Regions from separate parts of the Homo sapiens genome. Here all the other regions are linked to region 4. The links come from fine-mapping of genetic effects on gene expression. A gene starts in region 4. Each other region holds a variant in brackets. All regions are shown on one strand. Distances are between the middles of the regions.

What was found. PIP is the estimated chance that this variant, and not a neighbour inherited with it, causes the effect.
Region 1: its variant is the best candidate, but not a certain one, in a credible set for the expression of UBP1 in whole blood (TOPMed, PIP 0.55).
Region 2: its variant is the best candidate, but not a certain one, in a credible set for the expression of UBP1 in whole blood (TOPMed, PIP 0.84).
Region 3: its variant is the best candidate, but not a certain one, in a credible set for the expression of UBP1 in lymphoblastoid cells (GTEx, PIP 0.89).

Annotation. Positions count from the first base shown.
Region 1 is chr3:33,261,070-33,269,140 of GRCh38, forward strand. No RefSeq gene overlaps it. Among named protein-coding and RNA genes, the nearest start is that of FBXL2, 12 kb to the right of the region's middle. The variant A/T (reference allele first, on the strand shown) is at 4,203.
Region 2 is chr3:33,386,381-33,394,451 of GRCh38, forward strand. UBP1 (upstream binding protein 1) reads right to left here. Exons shown (of 16, transcript NM_014517.5): 14 at 6,932-7,074; 15 at 6,183-6,234; 16 at 1,956-3,988. The coding sequence ends at 3,951. It overlaps FBXL2 (F-box and leucine rich repeat protein 2), which reads left to right. Exons shown (of 15, transcript NM_012157.5): 15 at 1-1,712. Among named protein-coding and RNA genes, the nearest start is that of UBP1, 50 kb to the right of the region's middle. The variant C/T (reference allele first, on the strand shown) is at 5,079.
Region 3 is chr3:33,395,188-33,403,258 of GRCh38, forward strand. UBP1 (upstream binding protein 1) reads right to left here. Exons shown (of 16, transcript NM_014517.5): 9 at 7,614-7,717; 10 at 5,775-5,829; 11 at 5,002-5,095; 12 at 1,858-1,948; 13 at 975-1,093. It also overlaps a transcript of FBXL2 not described here. Among named protein-coding and RNA genes, the nearest start is that of UBP1, 41 kb to the right of the region's middle. The variant C/T (reference allele first, on the strand shown) is at 3,639.
Region 4 is chr3:33,436,609-33,444,679 of GRCh38, forward strand. UBP1 (upstream binding protein 1) reads right to left here and starts at 3,797. Exons shown (of 16, transcript NM_014517.5): 1 at 3,128-3,797. The coding sequence starts at 3,240. RefSeq lists silencers at 1,709-2,003, 2,802-3,036, 2,956-3,005, 3,236-3,555, 3,606-3,715 and 1 more and enhancers at 3,255-3,754, 4,086-4,275, 4,486-4,775.

The DNA.
Region 1 (8,071 bases), 180 kb before region 4:
TGGCATTTGGGTTGGTTCCATATTTTTACAATTGTGAATTGTGCTGCTATAAACATGCGTGTGCAAATGCATTTTTCATATCATGACTTATTTTCCTCTGGGTAGACACCTAGTAGTGGGATTGCTGGATCAAATGGTAGTTCTAATTTTAGTTCTTTAAGGAATATCCACACTGTTTTCCATAGTAGTGTTACTAGTTTACATTCTCACCAGCAGTATAAAAGGGTTCCCTTTTCACCACCTCCATGACAACATCTATTATTTTTTTACTTTATAATTATGGCCATTCTTGCAGGAGTAAGGTGGTATCACATTGTGGTTTTAATTTCTATTTCCCTGATAGTTATTGATGCTGAGCATTTTTTCATATGTTTGTTTGCCATTTGTATATCTTCTTTTGAGAATTCTCTCTTCATATCCTTAGCCTACATTTTGACGGGATTATTTGCTTTTACTTGCTGATTTGTTTGAGTTCCTTTTAAATTCTAGACATTAGTCCTTTGTTGGATGCATAGTTTATAAATATTTTCTCTCACTCTGTGTGCTGTCTGTTTGCTGATTGTTTGTTGTTGTTGTTGTTGTACAGAAGCTTTTTAGTTTAATTAGGTCCTATCTATTTATCTTTGTTTTTGTTGCATTTCCTTTTGGGGTCTTGGTCGTGAGCTGTTTGCCTAAGCCAATGTCTAGAAGAGTTTTTCTGATGTTATCTTCTAGAATTTTCATGGTTTCAGGTCTTAGATTTAAGTATTGGACCCATCTTGAGTTGATTTTTGTATAAGGTAAGAGATGAAGATCCAGTTTCATTCTTCTACATGTGGCTTGCCAATTATTCTGGCACCATATTTTGAATAGGGTGTCTTTTCCCTAATTTATGTTTTTGTTTGCTTCATCAAAGATCAGTTGGTTGTAACTATCTGGCTTTATTTCTGGGTTCTATATTCTGTTCCATTGGTCTACATGCCTATTTTTATACCAGTACCATGCTGTTATGGTAAATATAGCCTTATAGTACAGTTTGAAGTTGGATAATGTGACGCCTCCAGATTTGTTCTTTTTGCTTAGCATTGCTTTGGCTATGCAGGCTCTTTTTTGGTTCCCTACGAATTTTAGGATTTTTTTTCTAGTACAGTGAAGAATGATGGTGGTATTTTGATGGGAATTGCATTGAATCTGTAGACTGCTTTTGACAATATGATCATTTTTACAATATTGATTCTACCCATCTAAGAGTGTGGGATGTGTTTCTATTTGTTTATCTGTTATTTCTTTCAACAGCGTTTTATAGTTTTCCTTGTAGAGATCTTTCACCTCCTTGGTTAGGTGTATTTCTAAGTTTTTTTTTTTTCTTTTTTGTCAGCTGTTGTAAAAGGGTTTGGGCTCTTGGCCGGGTGCAGTGGCTCAAGCCTGTAATCCCAGCACTTTTCCAGCACGAGGCAGGAGGGATCACCTGAGGTCGGGAGTTCGAGACCAGCCCTACCAACATGGAGAAACCCCATCTCTACTAAAAATACAAAATTTGCCGGGCGTGGTGGTGCATGCCTGTAATCCCAGCTACTCGGGAGGCTGAGGCTGGAGAATCGCTTGAACCCAGGAGGCAGAGGTTGCGGTGAGCCGAGATCATGCCACTGCACTCCAGCCTGGGCAACAAGAGCGAAACTCTGTCTCAAAAAAACAAAACAAAACAAAACAAAAACAACAAAATGAAAAACTGGGGTTTGAGTTCTTGATTTGATTCTCAGCTTGGTTGCTGTTGGTGTATAGCAGTGCTACTAATTTGTATACACTAATATTGTATTCTGAAACTTTATAGTATTCATTTATCAGATCTAGGAGCTTTTTGGATGAGTCTTTAGGGTTTTCTAGGTATAGGATCATATAATCAGTGAACAGCAACAGTTTAACTTCCTCTTTACTGATTTGGATGCCCTTTATTTCTTTCTCTTGTCTGATTGCTCTGGCTAGGACTTCCACTACTATGTTGAGTAGAAGTGGTGAAAGTGGGCATCCTTGTCTTGTTCCAGTTCTCAGGGGGAATGCTTTTAACTTTTTCCCCGTTCAGTATACTGTTGGCTGTGGGTTTGTCATACATGGATTTTATTACCTTGAGGTATGTCCCTTCTGTGTTGATTTTGCTGAGGGTTTTAATCATAAAAGGATGCTGGATTTTGTCAAATGCTTTTTCTGCATCTACTGAGATGATCATATGATTTTTGTTTTTAATTCTGTTTATGTGATGTATCATAAATATTGACTTGCATATGTTGAACAATCCTTGCATCTCTGGGATGAAACCCACTTGATAAGCCAGGCGTGTTGGCTCATGCCTGTAATCCCAGCACTTTGAAAGGCCAAGGCAGGTGGATTGCTTGAGGTCAGGAGTTTGAGACCAGCCTGGCCAACATGGTGAAACCCCGTCTCTACTAAAATACAAAAAATTAGCCGGGCGTGGTGGCGGTGCCTGTAGTCCCAGCTACTAGGGAGGCTGAAGCAGGAGACTTGCTTGAATCCATGGGGTGGAGGTTGCAGTGAGCTGAGATTGCACCACTGCACTCCAGCCTGGGTGACAGAGCAAGACTCCATCTCAAAAAAATAAATAAATAAAATAAAAAAGGAAAAAAGAAACCCATTTTCTCATGGGGTATTACCTTTTTGATATGTTGTTGAATTTGGTTAGCGAGTATTTTGTTGAGGATTTTTGCATCTATATTCATCAGAGATTTTGGTCTGTAATTTTCTTTTTCTTTTTTTTTGTTATGTCCTGTCCTGGTTTTGGTATTAGGGTGATACTGGCTTCATAGAATGATTTAGGGAGGATTCCCTCTTTCTCTGTTTTTCTGAATAGTTTCAGTAGAATTGGTACCAATTCTTCTTTGAATGTCTGATAGAATTCAGCTGTGGATCCATCTGGTCATGGATTTTTTTTGTTGACGATTTTTAAATTACTGTATCAATCTCACTACTTGTTATTGGTCTGTTCAAGAGTTTCTATTTCTTCCTGGTTTAATCTATGAGGATTGTAGATTTCCAGGAATTTATCCATCTCCTCTAGGTTTTCTAGTCTGTGCATGTAAAGGTGTTCAAAGTAGCCTTTAATGATTTTTTGCATTTCTGTGGTATTGGTTGCAAAATCTCCCATTTCATTTCTAACTGAGCTCATTTGGATATTCTCTCTTCTGGGTTAATTTAGCTAATGGCCCATCAATTTTGTTTATCTTCTCAAAGAACAAGTTTTTTGTTTCATTCGTCTTTTTTTTTTGTTTGTTTCAATTTCATTTAGTTCTGCTCTGATCTTTGTTATTTCTTTGCTTCTGCTGGATTTGGGTTTGATTTGTTCTTTTTTCTCTATTTCCTTGAGATATGACCTTAGATTGTCTATTTGTCCTCTTTCAGACTTTTGATATAGGCATTTAATGCTATGAATTTTCCTTTTAGCACTGCTCTTACTGTATTTCAGAGGTTTTGATAGGCTGTGTCACTATTATCTTTCCATTCAAAGAATGTTTTAATTTCCCTCTTGATTCCATTGTTGACCCAAAGATCATTCAGGAGCAGATTATTTAATTTGTATATTTGTATAGTTTTGAGGGTTCCTTAGGAGTTACTTTCCAATTTTATCCCACTGTGGTCTGAGAGGGTACTTGATATCATTTCAACTTTCTTAAATTTGTTGAGACTTGTTTTGTGGCCTACCATATGGTCTCTCTTGGAGAGTGTTCCATGTGCTGATGAAAAGAATGTATATTCTGCAGTTGTTAGGTAGAATGTTCTGTAAATATCTGTTAAGTCCATTTGTTCTAAGGTATAGTTGAAGTCCATTGTTTCTTTGTTGACTTTCTGTCTTGATGACCAGGGTAGTGCTGTCAGTAGAGTATTACAAGCCCCCCACTATTATTGTGTTGCTGTCTATCTCATTTCTTAGATCTAGTAGTAATCATTTAATAAATCTGGGAGCTCCAAAGTTAGGTGCATATATATTTAAGATTGTGATATATTCCTGTTGGACTAATCCTTTTATCATTATAAATGTCCCTCTACGTCTTTTAAAACTGTTGTTGCTTTAAAGTCTGCTTTGTCTAATATAAGGATGGCTACTCCTGCTTTCTTTTGGTTTCCATCTACATGGAATATCTTTTTCTACCCCTTTACCTTAAGTTTATGTGAGTGAGTCCTTATGTGTTAAGTGAGTCTCTTGAAGACAGCAG[A/T]TACTTGGTTGATGGATTTTTATCCATTCTGTCATTCTGTATCTTTTAAGTGGAACATTTAGGCCATTTACATTCAACGTTAGTATTGAGATGTGAAGTACTGTTTCATCTATTGTGCTAGATACCTTGTTTCTTTTTTCATTGTGTTATACCTTGCTTTTTTTTCATTGTATTATTGTTTTATATACTCTGTGAGATTTATGCTTTAAGGCAGTTATATTTTGGTGTATTTTGAGATTTTTGCTTCAAGATCTAGAATTCCTTTTAGCATTTCTTGTAGTGCTGGCTTGGTATTAGAGCATTCTCTCAGCATTTGTCTGAAAAAGACTTTATATCTCCTTCATTTATGAAGCTTAGTTTTGTTGGATACAAAATTCTCAGCTGATAATTATTTTGTTTGAGGAAGCTAAAGATAGGACTCCACTCCTTTTTGGCTTGTTGGGTTTCTGCTGAGAAATCTGCTGTTAATCTGATAGGTTTTCCTTTATAGGTTACCTGATGCTTTTGCCTCACAGCTCTTAAGATTCTTTCCTCTATCTTGAATTTAGATAACCTGATGATTATGTGCGCAGGTGATGATCTTTTTGTCATGAATTTCCCAGGTGTACTTTGCACTTCTTGTATTTGGATGTCTAGATCTCTAGCAAGGCCAGGGAAGTTTTCCTTGATTATTTCCTCAAATTTGCTTTCCAAATTTGTAGATTTCTCTTATTCCTCAGGAACATCAATTATTCTTAGGCTTGGTCATTGTATTTGTCCATTTTCATGCTGCTGATAAAGACATAACCAAGACTGGGAAGAAAAAGAGGTTTAATGGACTTACAGTTCCACGTGGCTGGAGAGGCCTCAGAATCGTGGCTGGAGGTGAAAGGCACTTCTCACATGGTGGCAGCAAGAAAAAATGAGGAAGATGCAAAAGCAGAAACCCCTGATAAAACCATCAGATCTTGTGAGACTTATTTACTGCCATGAGAGAACAGTATAGGGGAACCACCCCCATGTTTCAAATTATCGCCCATCACGTTTCTCCCACAACACATGGGAATCATGGGAGTACAATTCAAGATGAGATTTGGGTGGGGACACAGAGCCAAACCATATCATTCCACCCCAAACCCCTCCAAATCTCATGTCCTCACATTTCAAAACCAATCATGCCTTCCCAACAGTCCCCCAAAGTCTTAACTCATTTCAGCATTAACCCAAAAGTCCACAGTACAAAGTCTCATCTGAGACAAGGCAAGTCCCTTCTGCATATGAGCCTGTAAAATCAAAAGCAAGCTAGTTACTTCCTAGATACAATGTGGGTACACATATTAGGTAAATACAGCTGCTCCAAATGGGAGAAATTGGCCAAAACAAAGGGTTTACAGGGCCCATGCAAGTCTGAAATCCAGAGGGGCAGTCTAATTCTAAAGCTCCAAAATGATCTCCTTTGACTCCATTTCTCACATCCAGGTCATGCTGATGCAAGAGGTAGTTTCCCATAGTCTTGGGCAGCTCCACCCCTGTGGCTTTGCAGGGTATAGCCCCCTTCCTGGCTGCTTTCATGGGCTGGCATTGAGTGTCTGCAGCTTTTCCAGGCACACGGTGTAAGCTGTCAGTGGATCTACCATTCTGGGGTCTGGAAGATGGTGACCCTCTTCTCACAGCTCCACTAGGTGGGTGCCCGAGTAGGGACTCTGTGTCAGGACTCTGACCCCACATTTCCCTTCTGCACTGCCCTAGCAGAGGTTCTCCATGAGGGCCCCACCCTTGCAGCAAACTTTTGCCTGGGCATCCAGGTGTTTCCATAAATTTTCTGAAATCTAGGTGGAGGTTCCTAAACCTCAATTCTTGACTTCTGTGCACCTGCAGCCTCAACACCACATGGAAGCTGCCAAGGTTTGGGGCTTGCAACCTCTGAAACCATGGGCCAAGCTGTACCTTGGCCCCTTTTAGCAACAGTTGGAGCGGCTGGGACACAGGGCACCAAGTCCCTAGGCTGCACACAGCGTGGGGACTCGGGGCCCAGCCCACTAAACCATTTTTTCCTCCTAGCCTTCTGGGTCTGTGATGGGAGGGGCTGCTGTGAAGACCTATGGCATGCCCTGGAGACATTTTCCCCATTGTCTTGGGGATTAACATTTGGCTCCTTGTTACTTATGCAAATTTCTGCAGCCAGCTTGAATTTCTCCTCAAAAAATGGTTTTTTCTTTTCTACTGCATTGTCAGGTTGCAAATTTTCTGAACTGTTATGCTCTGTTTCCCTTTTAAAATGCAATGCTTTTAACAGCACCCGAGTCACCTCTTGAATGCTTTGCTGCTTAGAAGTTTCTTCCACCGGATACCTTAAATCATCTCTTTCAAATTCAAAGTTACACAAATCTCTAGGTCAGGGGCAAAATGCCATCAGCCTCTTTGCTAAAACATAACAAGAATCACCTTTGCTCCAGTTCCCAAGAAGTTCCTCATCTCCATCTGAGACCACCTCAGCCTGGATCCTATTGTTCATATCACTATCAGCATTTTTGTCAAAGCCGTTCAACACGTCTCTAGGAAGTTCCAAAATTTCCCACATTTTCCTCTTTTCTTCTGAGTCCTTCAACTGTTCCAGCCTCTGCCTGATACCCAGTCACATTTTTGGGTATCTTTTCACAACACCCAATTCCTGGTACCAACGTACTGTATTAGTCCATTTTCATGCGGCTAATAACAGCATACCCAAGACTGGGAAGAAAAAGAGTTTTAATTGGACTTACAGTTCTGCATGTCTCGGGAGGCCTTGGAATCATGGCTGGAGGTGAAAGGCACCTCTTATATGGCAGCTGCAAGAGAAAATGAGGAAGATGCAAAAGCAGAAACCCCTGATAAAGCCATCAGAGCTCGTGAGTCTTATTCACTACCACGAGAGAACAGTGTGGGAGAAACCACCTCCATGATTCAAATTATCTCCCACCGGGTCCCTCCCACAACATGTGGGAATTCAAGATGAGCTTTGGGTGGGGACACAGAGCCAAACTGTATCAGTCATTTAACATAATCCTAACTTTCTTGGAGTCTTTGTTCAATATTTTAAAATTCTTTTTTCTTTGTCTTTGTCTGATTGTGTTAATTCAAAAACCTTGGCTTCAAGCTCTGAAGTTCTTTCTTCTACATATTCTAGTCTATTATTGAAACTTTTCAGTGTATTTTGTATGTCTCTAAGTGTGTCTTTCATTTCAAGAAGTTGTGATTGTTTTTTCTTTATGATATTTATTTCTCTGGAAAATTTGTCATCCATATCCTGTATTTTCTTTTAATTTCTTTACATTATTTTTTAACTTTCTCTGGTATCTCCCTGAGTAGCTGAATAATCAACCTTCTGAAATCTTTATCTGGCAATTCAGAGATTTCTTCTTGGTTTGAATCCATTGCTGGGGAGCTACTGTGATCTTTTGGGCATGTTATAGAACCTTGTTTTGTTATATTACCAGAATTACTTCCCTGGTTCCTTCTCATTTGGGTAGACTATTTCAGTGGAAAGATCTGGAACTCAAGGGCTGCTGTTCAGATTCTTTTGTCCCACAGGGTGATCCCTTGATGTGGTGCTCTCCCCCTTTCCCTAGGGATTGGGCTTCCTGAGAGTTGGACTGCAGTGATTGTTATTGCTCTTTTGGGTTTAGCCACCTAGTGAGGCTACCAGGCTCTGGGCTGGTGCTGGAGAATGTCTGCAAAGAATCCTGTGATGTCATCCATTTTCAGGTCTCCCCACTGTGGATACCAGCACCTGCTCTATTGGAGGTGGCAGAGGAGTGAAGTAAACTGTAATAGTCCTTGGTTATAGTTTTGTTTAGTGTGCTGGTTTTGTCGAATGCTGGTTATTCCAGCAGTGAAGTTGTCATGTGGAC
Region 2 (8,071 bases), 50 kb before region 4:
TCTCGTAAAACTGGGGGGAACCTTAAAGAGAAAGAACTAAGGCTTAAGTTATCTGTAGTATAATCAATTAGAAGTAATGAATGGATGCATGTAAAATGGATGTGATTTTTTTTCAAGCTTATTTTGAAATCTTAAAAATCAGGTTACACCATAGCTACTCAAAAGTTTTACACACTTAAAACTCAGATCAGTAAGTGTTGGTACCTTTTAGACTCATAAAATTGAATAAACCATTGCAATGCTTTAAAAAAAATTAAGTCAGAGGGTTTTATTGCTATGATTTTATGGCAGACACATCCAAGCAAAACCATTTTCCAAATGCAGACCTTCCTGATGTTATCTGAAATCTGATAAAATGACCCTACTCTCTGCTGTGGTTCATTCTTGCTCCATGCTGTCCATATTTATGATCTTTATTAAGAACCTGTCAATCAGTCATCACCACCTTCATTGTAAACTTAGGTGTTCATGGTGGCTGGCCCTTCCAAACAACCACTCCCCCAAACTGAAGGGCCAGAGCTCATGAGAAACTTAAAAGTGAAACGGCAAAAGCAAGATGTGTTCCCATGACTACCAATACCTTTATTAGGCAGTTTTAGAAGTGTTTTTAAGGATATATTATGTCAGCTGCATTCTAGGAAGAGAAGCAGATTATATATATATATAATCTCCCCATAAACGGACTTAGCACAATTATCATCAGAGTAAGCATTAAAGTCATTTTATTGCCTTATGATATATTCCAGTATTCCTTGGTCTAAAAATTGTGTGGATACCATAGCAGTTAGTTAAATATACATTTATACCCACTGTTTGTTGTGGAAGAGATGATGGGGGAGGAGGACTGATGCAGGAAGCAACTTCAATAAATGAGCATATAACAGACTTGCTTCAGTGATTATGAATTAGTTTAGTTTCTATTAAAAAAAATTAACTTAAGGCTGGCCACGGTGGTTCATGCCTATAATCCCAGCACTTGGGGAGGCCAAGGCGGGTGGATCACCTGAGGTCAGGAGTTTGAGACCAGCCTGGCCAACACAGTAAAACCCCATCTCTACTGAAAATACAAAAATTAGCCGGGCGTGGTGCTGGGCACCTGTAATCTCAGCTACTCGGGAGGCTGAAGCAGGAGAAATGCTGGAACCCAGGAGGCGGAGGTGGCAGTGAGCCGAGATTGTGCCATTGCACTCCATCCAGCCCAGGAGACAACAGTGAGACTCCATCATCATCTCAAAACAAAACAAACAAACAAACAAAACAAACCACCAGAGCCTTCTATACATGATTGATTTCTTTTGAGCCAGGATACAACCTATCATCAGTCACAGCTATTGGACTTGATGCTCAATGATCCATGGCCTCATTTACAAAACAGGAGAACCTCTTGTAAGAAAATCAGGTTTGCAGGCTGGGCACGGTGGCTCACGCCTGTAATCCCAGCACTTTGGGAGGCAGAGGCGGGCGGATCGTGAGATCAGGAGATCAAGACCATCCTGGCTAACACAGTGAAACCCCGTCTCTACTAAAAATACAAAAAAAATTAGCCGGGCATAGTGGCGGGTGCCTGTAGTCCCAGCTACTCAGGAGACTGAGGCAGAAGAATGGCGTGAACCCGGGAGGCAGAGCTTGCAGTGAGCCGAGATTGCGCCACTGCACTCCAGCCTGGGTGACAGAGCCAGACTCCGTCTCAAAAAAAAAAAAAAAAAAGAAAATCAGGTTTGCTTCCTTTTAAAGTCTGGAATAGTTTAGTTAGTTAGTTAGTTAGTTAGTTAGTTAATGGAATAACAACATATCCTCAGTTGCATCAGCTTTCAGAAAATAAACTGAAAAGGAAAAAACTATGAGCCTAACCTCTTACTACATTTAGACTGGCTCAGAATACACACAGGGAAACTCCTTGATTCTATGACACGAAGTGACAGTAGCAGGAACTGGGATTTTAAATGAGACACACATTTGCAAAACAATCAGAAAACATTTATTATACTGAAATGTGTACATCCTACTATTAAAAAAACAAAGTAACAAATTTGCTGGTGCCAAAATTTATTTAGCCTGTTTCACTGGGACAAACTCACGTTCAATGCCACTCAGTATAATTTCAAGTCTGATAAGCATCTAAGTATTTTTACCCCGCTTCTAAAACCTGATGAGGAATTCAAAATAAGCACACAGCATTAAATGACATTTATTGTTCCATAAATCTTGAGACCCAAAAAGGAATGCTAAATAGACAAGCAAAACTTTTAAAACAAACGAGATAAACTCACTTCTTTCCCCAGTGACTGGTACAGAAAACATGTGGTCACACGAAAGCAAAGGGAAAAAGTCAGAAAGGAAAACTCTCTGCCTATAGGATCTATAGGAGTTACAGATATTTTCAAATCGATGATGAAAATAGATCGTGCTTCTTTGTAGCAAATAATTAACCCCCTTTATGAATAAAACATAAAATGTCAAAGCTTTTACTCACTGAAGTAGTTTGTCTTCTGGGAGAGATTTCAAACTCAAAATTACTCATTTCCTATTTTTTGCCTGAACACAATGAGGATCAAATAGTACATTCAAATCAGGACACCTGGGTATATGGACAAAGATATCCTACAATTAAAATGGAATAGAAGTTAAAAAAAAAATTCAGTCCCCTACACCACAGGCCTCAAACATGCTTGCTGATGGATTCTGGGAAGGTTTTGGATGAAGGACGGAGATATGGGAGGAAAGTGAGAAAACAGTGGATTCCCTTTGAAAAGTATGCTAGCAGACAAGCATTTGGTTTTATGAAAGAGGCACTCTTATAGAGAAAGAAGCTAGTATGTGGTGTATAAAAAGCCCCTAAATCATCACCAGAATGTCTATCCATGATTGTACTAAAGCTCAATATTTGAGAGGCTTAAGGGATTTGTATGGTACATTTTAGTGTTTGATTGATAACATCTAGTGTTTCCAGAAAAAAATTCATCTTGTTCATAATGAAGATCCCTTAACACCTAGTCAGAAGCTATCAACAATAATACTTTCTCCCCCTACTTGGGTCACCTATTTCCAATGTCTGGGGTAGGGCTTTAAAAATGTTTAATAGGATGGTGGGGGTGGGGGGTTAGGGTGGGGGTGGTCAGAGATGGAGGGAGAGAGGGAAGAAAATGAGAGAAAAACCACGAGTTTAAAAGGCAAGGAATCTCCAAAAATGAAAACCAGAAACTAAAATGCTAAAAATGGAAGCAGAAGCAAAAAAGTTTTTCAATAAATCTGTGACAAAGCCAAAACACAAAAGTCTTTGTACCTATTAGGATTTACACTGATCCTCTCACCAAGGTACTCCTGATAATGCAGTTTGCTTCAAGCCCATCTTCCTGGCTTGGATCTTCTCCAATCTGGCATGATCATATCAAACGTACACCCTCAGACATGATTTCTTCCAAGAAGGTGCCGAGCCTCTTACCTGACCACCAACGGCCACATCAGCACAACACAACTCTCCGCATACAGATTCACTGCTGGCCCCACAACAGCACTGTCCCCCATCTCCTCTCCAGGTCAGCATAAGGTTCAGGCAATAAAAGCCAAACTGGCACAGAAAGGTAAATGCCCACAGTAAGTTTCTACATTCATTTCCAAACCGCATACAGTGTAAAAAGACAGCAAAGGCTGCTTCTAGGAACTGTATTTACTGGCCTCTGCCAGAGCAGCAGGCAGCTATGCCTGCACCGTGGCCTCCAGAGCTGGATGCATGCTGTGCCGATGTGCTCACTCTCATGAGGATGCTTGGCTATGGCAGTGACAGTGAGGAGATTCACCTCTCATACAGCTCATTAGAAAGGTCATCTTGTGTTTTCAATATGAAACATTTCATATGGTAAAATCCAATCCCAAGACTTCTTGGATTCAGTCTTCACACACTTTTAAGCGTGACTATTTGGTACTGAATACAGTTCAGTCTATATAAGACATCACTTCAAAATTATGTGGATGCCATCACTACTTTCAGCTGCAGAAAAAGGAAAGACAGTATTTCTTCAGTCAGGCTTAGGAAATTAAGCCTATTAAATGGAAAACTCCCTGCCAACTACAACCTCCCTTCCCAATTCAGAGGTTACCTTTAAATGATTCTAGAGAAACAAGCAGATTAACTTGCTCTAGCTCCTCTTCCCCCAAAAAACTTCATGTACACATTCCCTTTTTAGACATTCTGCGAAGCCTGGCCCACTATCAACGCCCGCATTCCAACACTGTCTGCCAGTTCTGGGGGTAGGGGGACATCTATCAAGACACACAATAATAGTGCTGTCCATAAGGGGAGCAAGAGCTAGAAGGAGAACAGGTGAAATATACTGTGTCAGGGCAGAGGACCTGAGGGAGTAAATGCAAATGTGTACATCTACCTTTTCCAGAAAAATTTCTGAGCTACTCACAGAGATTTCAAACATTTTAAAACTGTATCATTCCTTTTGCCTAGTGTTTCTCAGTAAATAGTGAGAAGCAATATAGGCATTCATAAAAAAATGATTTTTCTCATGACGACAAAGTTTAAAAAAAAAAACAAAACAGTAAATTGAGATTAGAGGGGAGATCCTATGATTTCTAATACCAAAAAATGTCTGCTGGTTTCACAAAACAAAACTATGCAATTATAGTATATGTCTTCTTTTTCAGACAATGTCAGTTATGCAAGGTAAAAACTGTACTGCTGTGAAAACAAAAGACTGAGCAGAAGGGTACTAGGCTAAAGATGTTTCTGAAAGAGTGAACCAGTTCAGAGTTAAAACTCAGCCTTGCAGGTAACCTGATGGCATACGCAACATGTGAGGCGCAAAATAAAATCAGTATTTCAGTAGTCTGGGGACACCTGACACACATGACATCTCCCTCTTCTAGGGGCAGCTTTTGTGCTAAGACCGGATTTGGATCTTAGCTCACCTGACTTTTAAAACAGTCTATGAATGTATGATCTCTTCTCAAATAATTTTACATTTAGGAATCCCTCCTCTTTAATGTTGGAGCCACCTAAGCCTGGTCCTGGCTCTTTTCATATTCTCTCCCTAAATGACCTTAACAACTTCTACAGCTTTGAGTCACTG[C/T]TGATATGCTGAAGGTTTCCAAATTTACATCTCAAGCCCAGGCCTCTTCTCTGAGCCCCAGACTGGTAATAGTCAACTGCCTACTTGACATTTCTACATATCCAAAATCAAACTCTTGGTTGATTTACCCCAACCATACTTACCTCTTCAATGAGATCACCATCTGCCCAGTTACTTTCCACAGAAAATAAGGTGTCAGAACTATTCCTCCCTCAAAAGTGGAGCCCACTGGGACCCTGTCTATAAACGTGTAAGATACCATCACCTTTCACCTGGATATCTCCTGCCTCGTTTTGCCACCTTCTCATCTGTCTCCACAGAGTTGTGAAAGTGAAAGAAAAATCTAGTCACATTACTACTCCTTTGTTTAAACAACTTCAGTGACAACCCAATGCATTTCAAGTAAATCCGAACTACCATCATCATCCGGTCCCCGCATGCCAGACCCGGCCTCCTGCTTTGATTTGCCCTGATCCGCTCACCCTCACACACTGCATGGCACCTACATGGCCCACTGCCAGGCTTTCCAAGAAGCCAGGTGTTTTCTTTGCACACAGCCCCACGTTGCCTGGGGATGCTAATCCAATGGCCAGCTCCCGCTTCTTCTCATTCTTCAAGTCTCAGGATTAATAACACCTCCTCAGAGAAGCCTTGCCTTACAGTTTCATATTCCCCTCAACCCAGATCTCCCTTATCCATAAGTACCCCCACACTTTCCTGTTCCTTCATGGAACTTAACATATTGGGAATTTTGTGTATCTCTTGGCCAATTTTGGTTTGCTTTCCCCAATAGGAGTTTCATGGATTCTGTTTTATTCAATAGATCCACTGAGCGACAGAAGCACGGTGTCTGACACAAAGTGCTCAGTAAGACGTTGGCTGAATGAATTGAGATTTTTTTTTCCAGTCATCTAGAAAGACTGACTCCTCTTCCTTATATGCTAATTTCTGTTACAACCACTAGAAATATTCTCATTTATCAAACTTTCTTCTTAAAATGAGTAAAGCAATCATTTTAAAGAATAAACACGAGAGGCACTAATTAGAGGCACACACCATCTCTCATGATTCCAGCATTTTAAGACACACACACATGCAAAGTACCTTTTACTGTGGAGAATAAAAAACAACTCTCATCTTGAAAATTCTGAACCATCTGGAAGGATAAAGTAAATGCGTAAGTACAATTAAGATCCAACTGTCGTTTCTTAAAATGATTTTAAAACAGTAAATATTCTTCTCAAACAAACACAGGACTCAATGGCCAAAACGATAATTCATGAAGGCAGTGTGAGGCAGCAAAGATGCACACGTGCTGCACTGCCTTGTGTTCACTATGCCTGTCCATAATGGTCCCTGAGAGACCTGGTCAGTCACCCATGTGACCCACAGGGGCACATTCCCTGCCGGCTCCAGTGGATGATGACTCGAACAAAAATTGCATAAAGTGCTCTTCTATTATTACTTGCCACCAATCACTAGGGGAAAAATTATATATCTTACATGTTTTTTTAAATTAGTCATCAAATAATAGACAAAAGGAAAACACATCCAGTGACTCACCTCATAAAAAGGGCCAAAGCCTGCCACTATCCCTAGAGTGCCCCAGTGATTGGCTGCATCCTAAAGGGCTGGGGGGAGGCTAAGCCAGTTTTCCTTGGCTTGTATTCCATATTATCACTAGGATGCCTGAAACTCTTGGTTATAAGTTCTTCCAAAGTGATTCCCAACTCTCTGAAAATGATTCTCATAAGTATTTTCAAAAGAGGTCACAGAATTTTTCTACAGTTCTACAATTACATGTATAAAAGTAAATACCAGTCTGAAAAGGAAAAACAAATGATTTGATTTACCTGATCACTAACAAGAATGTGAATACCGGTGGGACCCTGTCTGTAAACCTGATTAATTTGGTGGAGAGGGATATTAAACACCAGCGCAAGTTTTCGAGCAACTTCTGAGGCAATCATTTCTTCCAAGTAGATTGCATGATAAACTGAAATTAAAAAAAAAAAAAGAAAAGCATTTTAACAGTAATCTTTGATCTGTTTTCTGCCTGATCTGTAGGATCTGTACGAAGGTCACACCTTTCAAAGTACCAAAAAAGTAAAAAAACATTTTAAATGGGAATAAACTATTTCTTTCCCCCATCTTACTACCTTGAAATCTTGAACTACCAATCTAAAACGTAAGAATACATTATTTATATCCACAAATATAATTTAATAAACATTAACAGAAATCCCTGGACAAAAAGATTTGAGGTTTGAATTTTTCTTCATATTTTTATTCAATGAATATAGTTTCATGTATTCAAAATTTAAAAACAGGAATTGGCTGCAAATGGACATGGGGGATCTTCTTGAAATAATGGAACTCAAACTGAATTTTGACAATGGCTGCCAAACTCTCTAAATTGGCTAAAATACCATTATATACTTACAATGGGAGGACTTTATGGTATGTAAATTATGCCTGAAGAAAGCTGTTTTTAAAAATAATATATACTTCATGTATTTCTAGCAATATACAAAAAGAACCCTAAAAGAGTCATAGTTCTTTTTGTTTATTTTTTTAAGACAGTGTCCTTTTTTGTTGCCCAGGCTGGAGTGCAGTGACACAATCACAGCTCACTGTAGCCTCTGCCTCCCAGGCTCAAGCAATCCTCCCACCTCAGCCTCCTAAGTAGCTGGGACTATGGTGGGGGCACACGCCACCATGCCTGGCTAATTTTTATTATTATTATTATTATTATTATTATTATTATTTGTAGAGACAGGGTTTCACCATGTTGCCCAAGCTGTCTCAAACTCCTGGGCTCACGCAGTCTGCCCAGTTAGGCCTCCCAAAGTGCTGGGATTACAGGCGTGAGCCAGCACGCCCAGTTAAGCATTATAGTTTTTGATCCAGTAATCCTACTACTAGGAATTTATCCTAAGGAATAAAAGCTATCTGTATATGCCCCTCCCCCACAAAAAATTTTAAATAAAAGA
Region 3 (8,071 bases), 41 kb before region 4:
TCAAAATAATACCAAATAGAAAAGTTCACAGTAGTGATGCTATCCTTCCAATTTTTCAGTAAAATTCAAACCACAAGACATTTTTCAGAGCTCTACCTATTCTTAGGGCAAATAACTGCATCTCTGAATGCCATTAACACATCTTTTTTTTTTTAAAGTTCTGAGCATGTTGCCTTTGTTCTACTTCAGAGTATGGAAAGAAGGAAATGTTACCATATATCCATACAATAAATGAGAAAATATATGCCTTTTAAAATGCTTGCTTTTTTTAAGGGCCATATTTAGAGGTGAGAAGAGGGAGAAGCCAAGATTATCTCTGTCCTAATCCAGCACTATACCGTACAATTAAATGCTCAGGATGAGAAGCCCTCCCAAGATAACGTACTGGGTAGTATTATTTACAGTGACATAAAAACACGGCACCAGACGCGCCACACAAGGTGCACAATGCTGGCCGAACACTTGTCAGTGACAAGTCCACACACTTAGGACTATTACATGCAGGCACTGTTGCACATATGTTATGCTTTAAGAGTTCTCCCCATACCTAGTCAGGAAAATTGAAAAAAAAAAAAAAAAAAAAAAAGAAAAAGGAAAGAAAAACCCTCCTGCTTTTTTGTTAAGCTGCCAGTGTTATATTCATCATTTCAGTAAATCTGACCAAAAAAAAAAAAAAGCCAGAACTCAATGCATTCAAGCTAGTTTTTCCACTTGTTAGATATTTCCGGCATGAAGGGCCACATGAAAAACAGACCCATAGTGTGGCTGCAATGACTGAGAAAGAATGCCAGTTTCCTCTTCTCCCAAGGACTTCACCCTAGAGCTGCCACCTCTCATTGCTGTCAAGGCTCCCACATGAGCAACTTGGCATTCCTAACACAGCAAGAGTTCTCCAAAGCCTGCTCAATCGAGTCCTTTCCGTTTCTGTCTGACAGTCTCAGAAGTGACAGAATTGAGATGCCCTCAATACCTACCATAGGGTGCCCCACTGCCATTCTCGCTTGCACTGCTTGCAGCTTGCTGCTGCCCTTGCAGCACTGTGCTGCTTGGCTGCTCCCGGCAGACATAGATGGTTAAACGGGGTCTAACCGACCTGCAATCAGAAGATGCCACTGATGAGCCTGGGAGAGAAAGCTGCCTTACACATGTACAAATATGACAACTACAGGAATCTAAGTTCTATTTCCTTATGAGAACTTTATAATGTTATTTCGTTATACAAAGTAATTTACTAATAAAAATATAAAAACCACACACCTCACACCAACTATCACAGGTGGTCTAATATGATGATCCAGACTCTAAACCATTGAGATGGTCTGTCAGATGCTGGTAAATTTAAGTTTCAAGATTAAGTCAGCAAATTAAAAATCAGTAAGATTCAATTTTAATGGAATTCTCACACCACAAGTATAGAAAGAGCAATGATAGTAAATGGTTCTTACAAGCCAGCACAATTTACAGTTTCTGTCATTTTAATTCACAATTAGTTTACATTTTTAATAACTGTTTAGTAATAGTCATGACCTTGAAAACCATAGATTCTGTATAGCTCACCTAAATTAGAAGTTTTGTTTTCTTGGCAACAAACCCAGTCGTCTTCAAGAAATCAGTACTGCCCATGTGCATTTCTACCAGTCTTACAGTCTACCTCTGCCCTCATCAGTGCCTGCATCATATCTGGGCCTGCCCTGAAGGTGTACACAAAACAGTCTTCTTGTGAGCACAATGCTGCCAATGCTCGATGGCGCACACAGGCACACACGCCAACCTAGCGTGGAAACACATTCTGCCCAAATTCCCCACGCGAAGAAAGGTACATTCTTATTTCAAGCAAAACAGTTCACAGTATTTTACCTTGACTTCAGTGAATTATAGAGCCGAATTCCATCGGCTGCACCACAAATTTGAACTAAATCCTCCTTTGTCAGTTTTAATAAGTCGGCACCTAGAGAAGAGCAAAAATATTTTTCTCAAATAAATGGAAAAAGAACAGAACTGCTTTACAGGCATCTGTCTTCATGCAGTCCAATGTCCTTCAAAATAATCAGATATCCTGAATACACACATACACATGAACAATATAAGAAGACAAACAGACACCTGTCCTTCAGAGCCAAGGAAAATGCTGGCTTTTCCATGTCCTGTATCAAGAAGGAGCTTAGAAGTCCTGAGGCTGATGAATCAAATCAATGAGAGCAGGGCCTAAAGAACTCTTCCCGATATAGGATTTCACTCATCTACCTTATTTAGTGACTGGGTTGTGGCTATGTGAAGAAACATGATTCTAACCCACCCCACAGAAACAAACCCTGAGATCACCCGGGCCAGTCAATCTTTAATTTTAAAAAAAAGGAAATGGAAGTCCAGAGTTTGTGGGACTTGCCTAAAGTCTGTAAGAGTTGGTAGCCGAACTAGGACTGGGCCTCTTTATTCTGAAACGTGCAATGTAAAGTCAAACATGTTAAATTTTATAACATAAACAACTCTGTCACAGCAGCTAATTTTAACAGAAGAATGGCAGAGAATCACACATTATACCCTAAGATTTCCCCCAAGCACATCCTACTTACGATGTCATTTACAAGTGTAAATGTCTCTCTATACAGGTTTCCTATAGCACCACCTAGAGAAGCAGTGTTTGACACTTTTAAAAATTCTATCTGAACACTCCCTTCGCTTACCATACAAGAAAAAAAAACTTACATATAAGTATAAAAAAGCCATACCTGAGTACATACACACCATGAACTACTATTCAGTATTTCAAGCATAAATGATATGGCATCTAGGATTTGCTTTGAAATACAACAGAAGGCAGGAGAGGAAATAGTGGAGAGCAAGACTGACCAAATGCTGGTAGTTTTTGAAGGTAGGAGATGGCTGCATGGGAGTTCATCATATTCTCTCTACTTTTTAATGTCTGAATGTATCCATAATCTTTTGTTTTATTCTCTAACACCCAGGATACAGTTTATTGGGGGAATTAAGATGAACTTTGGGATGAAGGCTTGACTTCCATATGATAAATAGCCACTTACATATGTAGAAGATAATGGAGTCATCTTTCTATTTTTTAAAGGCTCAAATGCAATAGCCTACTAAATTTCTAGTCTGTAAAACAAAGATCAGAGAAGCACATCTCCCATGAGACATGAGCATTAATAGAGTCATTTTATAGAGTCAGGTAAGCAAAGAGGCTCTCTTTCATCTCTCTACTAGGGCTTACTACATGCACCTCACAGTTGTGACCAGAGAGTACTGTGTATGTGTGTGCACACCCTTAACCCATACAGAGAACTGGACAGATAACTGCAATGTACAACCCTTCCTGAAATGTGAATGCCCCCAAGGATCAGAGCAAGAAGACTCACTGTCCTCCTCACCATGCTACTGTCAGTGCTGTGACTCAGGAGATGTGCCCAAAGGGTACCATGGCTAGCTCCTCGCCCACTTTCTTGGAAGAAGCCCCCAGGATAAGGAAAAGGCAGAAGGCCACGCCATGTGATCACTGCTCACAGCGAAAGGGATTAAAACTCACCAGATAGAAACATGGATTTGCCTGATGTAAAAGGAGTAATGTGGGGCCTCCTTCAGTTCCAAATGTCGGCGCTTTTTCTATGTGCTATGCTTTTCAT[C/T]TGCCTTCCATACAACAGTGCAAGACAAACCCCAGCTCCCCGACCCTGAAATTTTACAATTTCTAGTTTTTCACACATAAAAGGCTTTACTTAATCATATAAAAATGTAGTCCCCAGCTAGCAAATGACCTCCATAGGGAACTTTAAAGAGACAAAGAAGTACACGGGGAATAACTACTCATTGCACAAACATTACAATACGTGGCATAGTAAGAAACCATGTTCTTAGCAAAATCAAGCTTTTCTTCAGGCTGAGTGTGTGCACACACAAGTTCTGTCCTCTTAAAGGGATTCACAAAGTTGTGTTTTAATGGCCCTACTGCACTGCAGGTGAAGGAATGCTAACTACCACTTTACTGTGATCCAGCACTTCTCAGGATGTTTGGCCAGGCCATGTTACTAGGTGGTCATGTTGGAAAAGAGTCCCAGAGCCAAATATATTTGGGAAATGCTACCTCTGCCCCACCTGTCATTATCTATTACTGTCCCTCTAAACAGGTTTCCTATAGCACTACCTGGAGAAGCAGTGCTTGATACCTTTTAAAATTCCTTCTTAACATTCCCTTAGCTTACTGTGCAAGAAAAAAAACTTACCCATAAGTATATAAAAACTGTAATTGAGTACACTCAGACTATGAAACACTACTTAGCAGTAAAAAGGATTAAACTACTGATAAACACAACAACTTAGGTGGCCGTTATGCTAGTGAAAAAAAGCCAATCTCAAAAGGCTATATACTATATGATTGCATTTATATAACATTCTCAAAATGACAAAATTATAGACAGAATGTAAAGTGGTTGCCAAGGACTAGGGATGGTGGGGGAAGGGTGTGGGTGTGACTCCGAAGGGGTAGCAGGAGGGAGATCCTTGTAGTGATGGCACAATCCTGTCATCTTAATTGTGGTGGTGGTTACAAATATCTATACCATAACATACGTTGTGCCAATGTCAGTTTCCTGGTTTTGCTATTGTACTATAATTATGTGAGAAACGGAGTGAAGAGTACACCGAAATATCACTGTACTAGCTCTGTAACTTACTGTAAAACAAAAATTATTTCAAAATAAAGTTAAAATGAAAAAAATCATGTAAAACTATATACACCTACACACAAATGAGGTCACGTAAGTCTGGTAAAACTGCTGACTGAACCAATGTCAACTGCCTGGCTTCAATAGCATATAATAAAAATACAAGATATTCCTATTGGGGGATAGATATAAAGAACTTCTCTGTACATTTTTCTTTGCAACTTCCTATCCATAGTTATTTCAAAATTTTAAAAATATAAAGTTAATAAAAGCACAGAAACAAAAACAAAACATTCTCATGCACAGATACACACACACATACACATACCTGAAAAATTAGAGAACAGTCTTGTGTAGGAAGAGAATCTGTTTTTGAGCAGCCATTGCTGTGTTTCCTGGATCGTAGCTGAAGGCTGAATTTGCTATTAACAATGAAAATGAACATAAATAAAAGGAACCATTCAGACTTAGAACATTTAAACAAAACACAGAAAGCCTCGGAGTCTGAAGTAAAAAACACCCAAAAAGAGCATGAGTCTGACTCCAGCAACCCAAATGATGCAGGCCCTTGTCAGAAACTTAAACATGATACACAATGGGATGCTATTCAGCCATAAAAAAAGAGAAAAATCATGCCGCTGCTAATGAAATCACCTTTTGCAGCAACATGGACAACATGAACATTTCATTGTCTTAAGTGAAATAAGCCAGGCACAGAAAGACTTATATTCTCACTTATATGTGGGAACTAAAAAAATTTGAACACATGAAGGGAGAGAGTGGAAAAATAGGTAACAGAGACCGGGAAGAATGGGTGAGGGATAAGAGAGAGGATGAGAAGAACTGGATTAAAGGGTGCAAACAAACATACAATAAAACAGAAGGAGTAAATTCAGTATTTCGTAGCAGAGTAGGATGACTATACCTAAAAAAATGTACTCTACTCAGGTGATGGACACCCAAAATATCCTGACTCGATTACCACACATTACCATACATGTAACAAAACTTCTCACCTACTCCATACATTTGCACAAAAACCAAAACTTTAAAATGTAGAACCCTGAAAGCATCAGATAGTTTTAGGAGAAAGATACTTACTTCACCAGAGGTCTGTGAAGCTCCATCTCCCTGATGATTTGGGGAAGAAGAATTGCTGGGGAGAAAGGAGAAAGAAGGAAATGATGATTTTTATAATACATATATGTTTTAATCAAGGCATTAAAAGCTGTTGCATTGTAACTATGCAAATTTCAAGTAAGGCAACAGTGGGAGACAGCTATGAAAGTCTGCAACAAAATGCAAGCGCAACAGCTTAGGGTGTGGACATGATGACGAAATTAAGACACAGAAGACTGTGTCTTAATTTGTGCCTTCTTCATCTGTACTAGTAAGAAATTCAAGTTTTGTGAAACAAAAGGGCTTCCCCAATTATCTTCAGGGATGCCAAGGAAAATGAAGGATACACATTAATTTTTAAAAGTTAGGGGAAAAAATATGAAACATCAAATTAGATAAATAGTTGAAAATAATTGCAAAAAAAATGAGCTACAAGAAATAGTACAATGACCCTAAGCAAAAATATAAAATGATACTCCTTTAAGTAATACATATATCCAAGATTGATGAGGGTGAATTTCAAGAGAACAAAAGAAATTAACTTGTACCACTATCCTTGTGCTTCTAAGTAAAATGAAATGAAAAACAGCTCCACAGGGAATAGGGCTACCTTCTGGCTCTTGAGCACCGACTCCTTTCTTAGCCCCCGTGCCTCAATTGCTTAGGTTTATTATCTTGATTATTTATATCCTTTCTACCCATAAGAACTTAAGCTCCTTCAGACGGGGGTCTGTCTGTTTGGGCACTAATGTATCAGAACACTTAGAACAGTGCTGGGAACACAATAAGTTCTCCAGTCTACTAGTGAGTACATAAACTTACAGCTCACCTTTAAAGCCATAAGCATTTTCTAAGATTATTCAGACCGGACTGACTGACTAGGAAACTATTCTAAGCCCTCAGACATGGTAACCTACTGGTCCTCTGGTCACTCCTCTAATTTTCTGAGTCCAAGGCTATTTTTCTACTCTTAAAGCATAATAGCCTACATGACAACAAGCTGCCTTCTCAGTTTATCCATCTCCTCAGGGGGAGAGCACATTTTTGCTTGCTTTCTCATCAGACCTTGTCAGCATGACCGGAGAACCTTTTTCTTTGTGATCTTAGCTTTCATAATTTTCCTCCCCAACAAGAAACTTCCTAAAAATAGGGAACTTCTGATGCTAACTACTCTGCATTAGTTCTGCAGCAAAGCCCTAGAATGGAAAGCCGCCATGGGGTACTGCTGTACCTTCAAGATGCCCCAAATGCAGTCTCTTGCTCCCACCCTGAGCTTACTCTAGACTCTTGCCAGTCAAGGCTGGATAACAGAATAAAGAGTCCACCATTTCCATTTCTAAAACCACAGCAAGTCTGTAGAAACCGAAAGGTCTTCCTTTAAAGATTTAATTAAAAAAATAGCATATCTATTGGGAGAGAAAAGAAATACTGCAGAAAATAACCCATTTGATATAAGCATTACAGACAAGTGAATGAACTTAGTAATAAACTCACTTTGTCCCTCTCTCTCTACCTATAGACACTGTTAATGTTGTCTTTAATCTTACAAAGAATATATCTTGGCTATGTCTTGAAAATGGCGCCTTGTCTACAATTACCATAGTTGTGACTATGTTAAGGCACAAGGGGCTCGGAGTAAAAAAGGCTGGTAGGTGAAGAAAAGACAATGATTGTCCTCTGCCACCAAGATACAGGATACTTCCCCTTACTGTTTCCTTTAGGTACAATACAAACAAAAGGCTGCTGTACATGGAGAGATGGGGAAATGAAGGCACATGAGCATTAGTTAGCTGCAGGCACACGATCACACAAACTAGATACCTGTCTGGGACACTGCAAGTGCTCTGCTGTGGGGAGGTGAAAGTGGGCGCTGGGGAAGGGCTGTTATTCACATAGGCTGTGGGGGCATCGGGCCACGGAGAACACTAAGGACAGAAACAGAAATAAATTAGTGATATGCTTTTAAAATATGTGGAAGAAATATTTTTGTAATTCACTCACTAACCAAATGCAAGATTATAAAATGCGAGACAGCTGACATTTATCAAGCAACCTCACAGACACATGTCAAATTTACTTCTGTGTGGCAAAGAAAAGTTTTACCTGCTGTGTGCGTCTAGACACTGATTAATCTTAGAGAAGACCTAAAGTGATGACAGCAGCAAAAATTTATAAAGGCATTTAAAATATATGCTTAAGTATAATTGCTTTGAAGAGCTTTCTCCTCCCTCTTTACCAGTATCCTCTTTATCAGTTTCCCAACAGGCACCTATCAAGAT
Region 4 (8,071 bases):
TCAATATTGAGCCCCCAAATCCTAAAAATTAACTTGGCTACAGATGATAAATTTCATACAGTGAGATGGAAAGAAAATTACCAGGTGGTCCAAAGACCCTCTTTGAGTTTTAATGAGTATTATTTTTTAAAGTCATTTGGTTATCTACTCCATACTTCACAAAACGAGAATGACCCAGATTTCAAGTTACCATGAGTTTCAGTCTTCACTCTGTGTGGGGGAAAAATCAGCCTTCATCTGTTTAAGCCAATCACTTTAACATCTATGACCCTCAGATAATGCATTTACAGTATAAGAAAAGGAGTGGTCTAGACTCTAAAAGGTTTCTAAGGAAGGTCTCTATCCATCTCTAAAATCCTGTTACTGTAACCAAGATTTTTAAAAACATTTATGACCTGCCTCATTTCAAATAGAATCTGCTGCAGTTCACATCTCACATCCAAATATAACCACCAAAAAAGACTAAACAAAAACAACAACAAAAAAGTATAATACAACAGCACACACAGAACACATGAGAACCAGAGCCAAAAGAAAAAGAGAAGCAAAGGTAATGTTAGTAATTAGCCCCAATATATTCCCAATATTACCAGCCTACATTATTTTACACAAACATATTTTTCCTACTGTTTTAAGAGAAAGGGGTGGGGGGAAACAACAAAAGAGAAGGGGGTCTCATTCTTGCCCAGGCTGGAATGCAGTGGCTATTAACAGGTGCAATCATAGCACACACTACACCCCTGAACCTCTGGGCTCAAGCAATCTCCCACGTAGCTAGGTCTACAAGCATACCAAACATCACACCTGCCTAATTTTAAGTCAGACCACTGACAGAAGCCATTTCTTCCTTTCAAACTATCCTCCCAAAAGATGAGGAAACCATTCCCTAAGAGAAGTCTTTTAAGAAATACCTCTTGTTTTAAGCCATCCAAAAAGCAAATACAGTAAGCATGTTTCATTTTGAAAGAAAAATAGAAAGCTGCCTACAAAATCAATTTGTATCAAGAAGTCATTTTTCCAGTAATTTCTTCAAGTTTACTTCTTGAACTTTGAAAGATAAGCTTTCCTTCCCACTGGATGCCAGAGGAAGTGACTGAATGCTCAAGCTGGCCATTCATAGGCACTCCAACCCTCTCAGGGCTCCAGGGCCAGGCATGGAAAGTACAACTGCAGTCCAGGGAGGCCTGCAGCAGCTAACGCCTTCTTCAGATTTTCTCCTTATCGAGTCAATTTTGGAATTTCCTTAGTTTGAGAATTTCAAACAAAGGGCCTTGAATTTGCAAGAGGCAAGCACTCTCATCTCTTAGTTTTTGAGGACTCAATTAAATACGAAAAAAAAACCTTCTTAAAAATGGTAATTACCTTCAAACTTCTTTGAAAATTTAGATTAAATGACACAACCAAAAAAGAATTCAAGGGAAAATTATCCCTGTAAAGAGTACTGTAGGTTACACAGAATTACAAAGATCTCACACATTACTTTAAAAATACATGGTCAGGGAAAGGTTTAAAATCATCAAGATTGTACTTCCTTTTCATGGAAATAAACCATACACAGAAGTTATTACATTAATAAGTTGGCTGAATCACTAAATCAAAGTACAGGTCAAATAAAACCCTAGAAAAAAGTAAAAGCTCAAAATAGCTATCAATAAGTAAACTTTTCAGCAGCAAACTTTCATTTTACCATAAAAGAGAAGCAACTGAGGAGAGACACATATTGAACTTGCTTCACGTGCCTCCTTTGCCTTGACTATAAGCCTCGTGTTTCCAGTAGAGAGCTAAGGAGCAGAATGGCACTAGAGGAGTGCGTTTTCACTAGAGAAGCACTGCCTCTAATACTCCCCTCTGGGGTGACTCCATGACTTTCAGTAGCTCAATTTCCTCAACAACTGAAACAGCTGTTTTAGAAAATAAGCCAACTCATCTACAGGCCTTAAGTTATACAACTGCAGAGAGAAGAGGTGCCAAGTTCAGGAAGCCCAACAGAGACCAAATCAGAGCCAGACGCTGGGGAACTCCAGGTTTAATATGCCTTCCACTACTCACTTCCACACTCCAAGAAATGTCTCCAACCTTTCTGAGAGTTCTTTATGGCTCAGAATTTCTCCTTAAGATTTAAAGACCCAATTACTTCAAGGAGCAGCCACCAAGATTCCAGGCCAGCTTTAACCCAGAAGTCCTCCTCTAGAGCTGCAGTAAGATGTATGAATGCTACTGGGAAACTGTAGAGCACTTCCAAAACATCAGACATTTTCTAAAGAACAGAAAGCTACACTTAATTCACATTATTGAAAAGCTGCCAAACCACTGATTTTTAGACTTTATTAGTCAAGTCAACGCTATGGTAAACTATATTTCAATAAAGCCACTAAAAAAATACAGAGTTTCCAAATTCCTAACAGTTAAAAAGGATAAAGGGCGGAGACTAAGCTCAGATCTGTTTCAATCTCTCCATATTAAAATGAATGACTGCTGGTACAGACAGCAGAGACTAAACAATTATTTGTGGTGCAATCACTGCATCTTAAAACCCTCAAGAGGAAACAGCCTGAGAGGGTAGTCTCCAAAATGAGAAACTTCACTTTGAGACAATCAAAAGAACAAAACGAAGTCACAGTGCTACTCCCACCGCTGCTCTTTCAATTATAATTTACTAACATCAAGTGATTAAAATCTGCAGCCAGAAAAGATCATAATGTAGGACAACAAAGTAGGAACTGATCCCAAAACGCTAGACAGTATTCTCCCAATATAAGTGCTGCCTTTTCGTACAGTGTATTCTAGCTCCAATGGGACTTGTAAATCACTTATAAGGAAAAGAAGCCCCTTCCCCCACCAACCCAAGCCATCCTAATAGCTGGGCGTGTTTTACAGCAAATATGAAGCACTCAGGAGCGGTCCGAGGCCGACGCTTGCGGGGCCATCCTCCCCCACCCGCCCGTCACCAGGGCGAGCAGAGGCCTTTGGGGTTCCATGGCCCCCGACCGCCACGCGGCAGGACTCCGACCCCGCAGCCCAGGAGGCCCGCGCACCTCTGGGAGCAGCCGCATCTGGCAGAGACTCAGGGCTGCGCAGGCCTTCCCCAAGGAGACAGAGGCTTCTCCCCGCCCAGGGAGCCCAGTACCTCATGCTGTAAGCGCCGGCGCCCAGTTCCTGCCCGATGCCCGAGAGGCTGGCGTCGAAGTCGTGCACCAGCCCGGACTCGATCACCTCGTCCATCTTGAGCACCCAGGCCATCTTCCGGCCTCGCCGTCGCCCCGCACACCGCGGCCTCCGCGTCCAGGGCGAAGGAGCCGGAGCTCCGCTGGCGCGTCCTGGGGGAGGGCGCGGGTGAAGCCTCCGGAGGGGCGGCGAGTGGTCACCAGCGGCGGCCGGGACGAGAGCTGCGGGGGCCCCACTGGCAGGGCACGACGAGCCCAGCGAGCAATTGCAGCGGGAGCGGCCGGGCCGCCGGCAGCGCCACCCTCCCGCGGACACCGGCCCTGCGCCTCATGCCGGCGCCGCCGCCCAGCCCCCGCGCCGCTAGCGCTGCAGCCGCCGCCGACCGCCCCGCCCGGGGCCCCCCGGTCGCATCCTCCTCCGGGACCGCTGGGAGGCTGGACCTCGGGCCGCTCCGAGGACCACACGGGGGCAAGCCCTCCGCCCGCCCGTCACCCGCCCCCAAGCCTTGACTCCTTGCCCCCGGCCCGCCCAGGCTCTAGCGCCACACCGCCCCGGCCAACCCCGCCGACGCCGCTCTGCCGGCCGGACGCTGGCTTCAACGCGACTCCGACTTAGGTTCACGCGCCGCTTCCGCCTCCCCCGGCCCCGCCCCGACCCCGCCCCGGCGTTCGCCCCACGCCTCGGCCCTCCCCGTACAGCCCCGCGCTTAGGGCCACTCCCCGCGCCTCGCGGCCCAGGAACTGTCCAGAGAGTGCAATGCGGCCCCGCCCACGCGGCTGTTCCCAGCCGGGGTGGCCTCGCTGCGTCCCCGCACAGCAGCCCAGGAAGAGGCGGTGCCAAAAGGGCTGCCAGTTTCCGCCCCTTCTAGCGAGCGAGATGATTGACAGGCCAACTGAGCAATACCTGCAAGGGCTTGGACGAAGCTCCCGTGAGTCTCTGTGTCCCCCGACTAAACAACCAATCAAAATGTTCTTCACCTTGGGCGGGCTCGAAGACGGAATTTGTTGCCAAAAGAAAGAGTTCATTGGACTGCATGGTAGAAAGCGACCCAAAACGCCACTTCCGGAGGTGATTTGCTCCTCTGTGGTATTTCCCGGTCGTCTCTGCTTTATGCCCTCTCTACCGAGGGAGTGAGCGGTTTGCACCCCATCTGGTGACAGAAAAGCCAGTTGTGCAGAAAACCTTGATTGGCGTGAGAATAAGCCAATCAACGCTCCTGAGAAAGAGCTCTGGAAAGACTTCCCCTATTGGTTGCATTGCCGAGAGCAGCTTGGCTATCCTGAGTTGAACTAGCTGTTGGTCATCCTAAGGGCAGGCGGTCTCCTGAAGTTGGACCGAACCATTAGGACGTGCCACAGTAACAGCTACGCTGCTCAGAAGGCCCGAAGGGTCTTCCTCAGCGACCTAGCGTGGGCACGCGCCACTGCGGCCAAAAGACAGAAATCTTTTTACCGGAAGAGATGAAATAGAAAGCAGGAGCCAGAGGCTGACTTACAGAGCCAGTGTGCGGATCAGAGTTCCTTAGGAGCGGCTGCTGGCGCTTGACGGGCGGAATCCTTGCTGAAGAGAACGTCAAGGCCCGGGCTTCGCCCTGCATCGAACTTACTGCCTAAGAATAAGACCCAAATGCTGAGCGCCCCGCCCCAACTTGCCAGTTTAAGTGCAAAAATACATAGATTAAAATGTCAGCCTAATAAAGCAGTGGCACTGAGCCAGAAAAAAATAGTCTCAACGCCTGTGTGATTTAGATACTAACTTACAGGCTCACGCCTGTAATCCCAGCACTTCGGGAGGCCGAGGCGGGTGAATTAGTTGAGGTCAGGAGACCATCCCGGCCAACATGGTGAAACCCCGTCTCTACCAAAAATAACAAAAATTAGCTGGATGTGGTGGCGCGCCCATGTAATCCCAGCTACTCAGGAGGCTGAGGCGGGAGTAAGGCTTGAACCCGGGAGAAGACAGAGCAACACTCGGTCTCCAAAAAAAAAAACCACAAATTAACTTGGAGAATGTTTTTCTCTTTACACAACATTTTTGCAAACATTTCATTTGATAAAGCCATACTTTAGAGATGAGGTAATTCAGGTGAAAATGTGTAAAGATTACACAGTGCAAGGTCACACAGTAAGCAGGTAAACCGGGGCTATTTGACTAATCCAGATTTCTCTGATTCCAGGCGAAAACATTAGATTGGCCATCAGTTCAGGAAGCTCCATTCCACTATTACAAATAAATCTGCACAAACAATTGGATAGTCAAGGGAAACATTGGTCTCATTGGGGGTCTCAGATATGTCTTCATTCCATGATCTCACCTCACTTGCATAACCTAGTCTATAACCAGATTAGCCAGGCCTACTATTAGTTGTTGGAAAATTTGGAGAAATGGAATTGGGGGAAGATAATTCTCTGGTTTTTGGAGAGAGTGTAAAAGTACAAGCTACCATCAATTTTTCAATCAGGCTGTGCCCTAAGGAAGTACTGGGTCAAATATTTAGAAATTGAGCCTCAGGCTGGGCAGTGTCTCAGGCCTATGATCCCAGCGCTTTGGGAGACCAAGACTTAAAGCTTGGGAGGATGGCTTAAGGCCAGCAATTGGGAGACTAGCCTGGGCAACATGGCAAGATCCCGCTTCTACAAGAAAAAAAAAATTAGTTGAGCATGATGGCACGCTCCTGTAGTCCTAGCTACTTGAGAGAGACTGAGGCAGGAGGATCACTTGAGCCTGGGAGTTTGAGGCTACAGTAAGCTATGATTGTGCCACTGCACCCTAGCCCGGATGACAAGATGAGACCCTGTCCTTAGAAAAACAAACAACAACAACGAAAAACAAAAAACAAAAAAAAAATTAGAGTTCTGGAGGATAGAAATAAAAGTGTTGGCTGGTCATGGTTGCTCACAACTGTAATCCCAACATTTTGGGAGACCAAGAGGGGAGGATCTCTTGAGGCTAGGAATTTGAGACCAGCATGGGCAACAGAGCGAGACCCCTGCCTCTACAAAAGAAAAATTTTTTTTGAGACAGAGTCTTGCTTTGTTGCCCAGGCTGGAGTGCAGTGGTGCGATCTCAGCTCACTGCAAGCTGCGCCTCCGGGGTTCGCACCATTCTTCTGCCTCAGCCTCCCGAGTAGCTGGGACTACAGACGGCCGCCACCACACCAGGCTAATTTTTTGTATTTTTAATAGAGACAGGGTTTCACTGTGTTAGCCAGGATGGTCTCGATCTCCTGACCTCGTGATCTGCCTGCCTCAGCCTCCCAAAGTGCTGGAATTACAGGCATGAGCCACCGCTCCTGGCCAAAAAAATTTTTTTAATTAGCCAGACATGGTGACCTGCACCTGTGGTCCCAGCTACTCCAGAGGCTGAGGTGGGAGGATCACTTGAGACCAGGAGGTCAAGGCTTGCAGTGAGCCATGATAATGCCACTCTAGCCTGGGTGACAGATGAGACCCTGTCTGGAAAAAAAATAGAAGTATCAAGCAGCGCTAAATAGTAATGTCATAAAGAGACCAAAATATAAAAGAAGGATAGTGTTAAAAGAAAACTTTAGACAAATTAAATATAAGAGTTTAATTTTGCAAAAAAAAGATTTGTCAATCAGGTAGCCACCCCGAACCAGAATATGTTCAGAGAGACTCCAACACTGTTGCATGGTGGAAGAAGATTTATGGACAGAAAAAGGACAGTGATGTACGGAAAACAGAAGTGAGATATAAAAACAGCTTGATTGGTTGAGTGTATTATTTGAACAGTTGGCCTCCTGTAATTAGCCAAAACTCAGCGATTGTTATAATAGGTTATAGACCATTTATACATCCAGTTAGGTTACAATTTACTGTGTACAGAGAAACCTTTAGGCTGAACTTATAAGGAGGCAACTTTAGGCTAAACTCAATTTAACAATTTCTCCCCTTTTGTTCAACCTCTCAACTTGACCAAAATAGAGAGGTTGACCAAAATCCTAGACATTGACATTACTTTCTGACCATTGTAAATGTACTTATCTGGTCGCAAATCCCATTGGGAAATAGTACAACAGTGGGTTTTGTAAGGTGCGAATAAGGACTTTAGGTTATTTTCTGGTAAGCGTTAGAGTAGAGGATACTTTTTTTTTATTATGTTGGAATTTTTATTTATTTAAATTTTATGGACATTTTATGGATGATTGTATGTAAACATTTAAAACTTTTGAAAGTCCTTAGTGCACATAGGAGACTACTATTAAGATTACCAAGAGGATAATACCAAGACTTTGGAGTATGCCCCTTAGCCAGGGTCAACATGAACTAAACTAACTAAAATCAAATAGATCAAAGAAAGAGCTAGATAAAAGATCAAGCTGTTTTAACCAAGCAGCTTGTTTATTAATCCCCTGTAACTGAATCTCTATAATACCTGATATGTTCATCTCTGTGCAACAAGAAGTGTGAGCAACTGCAGATACTTCTCTGTATCTGCATACAGAGATACATACTTCTCTGTATGCAGATACAGAGAAGTATCTGCATACAGAGATACATACTTCTCTGTATCTCAGTAAGTAATATACAGCAATTCCGTTATCTAGCACAACTTTAGCAAGAGAACTTAAAGTCTGTTGTGCCATGGCCTTTGCAGTAGAGTCAGCTATAGAGTCTACTATGAGGGATAAATTTCCTTTTTCTTTCTTTTTTTTTTTTTTACTTGTTGAGACGGAGTCTTGCTCTGTCACCCAGGCTGGAGTGCAGTGGAGCGATCTCGGCTCACTGCAAGCTCCACCTACCGGGTTCATGCCTTTCTCCTGCCTCAACCTCCCGAGTAGCTGGGACTACAGGTGCCCGCCAGCACACCCAGCTAATTTTTTTCTGTTTTTAGTAGAGACGGGGTTTCACCATGTTAGCCAGGATGGTCTCGATCTTCTGACCTT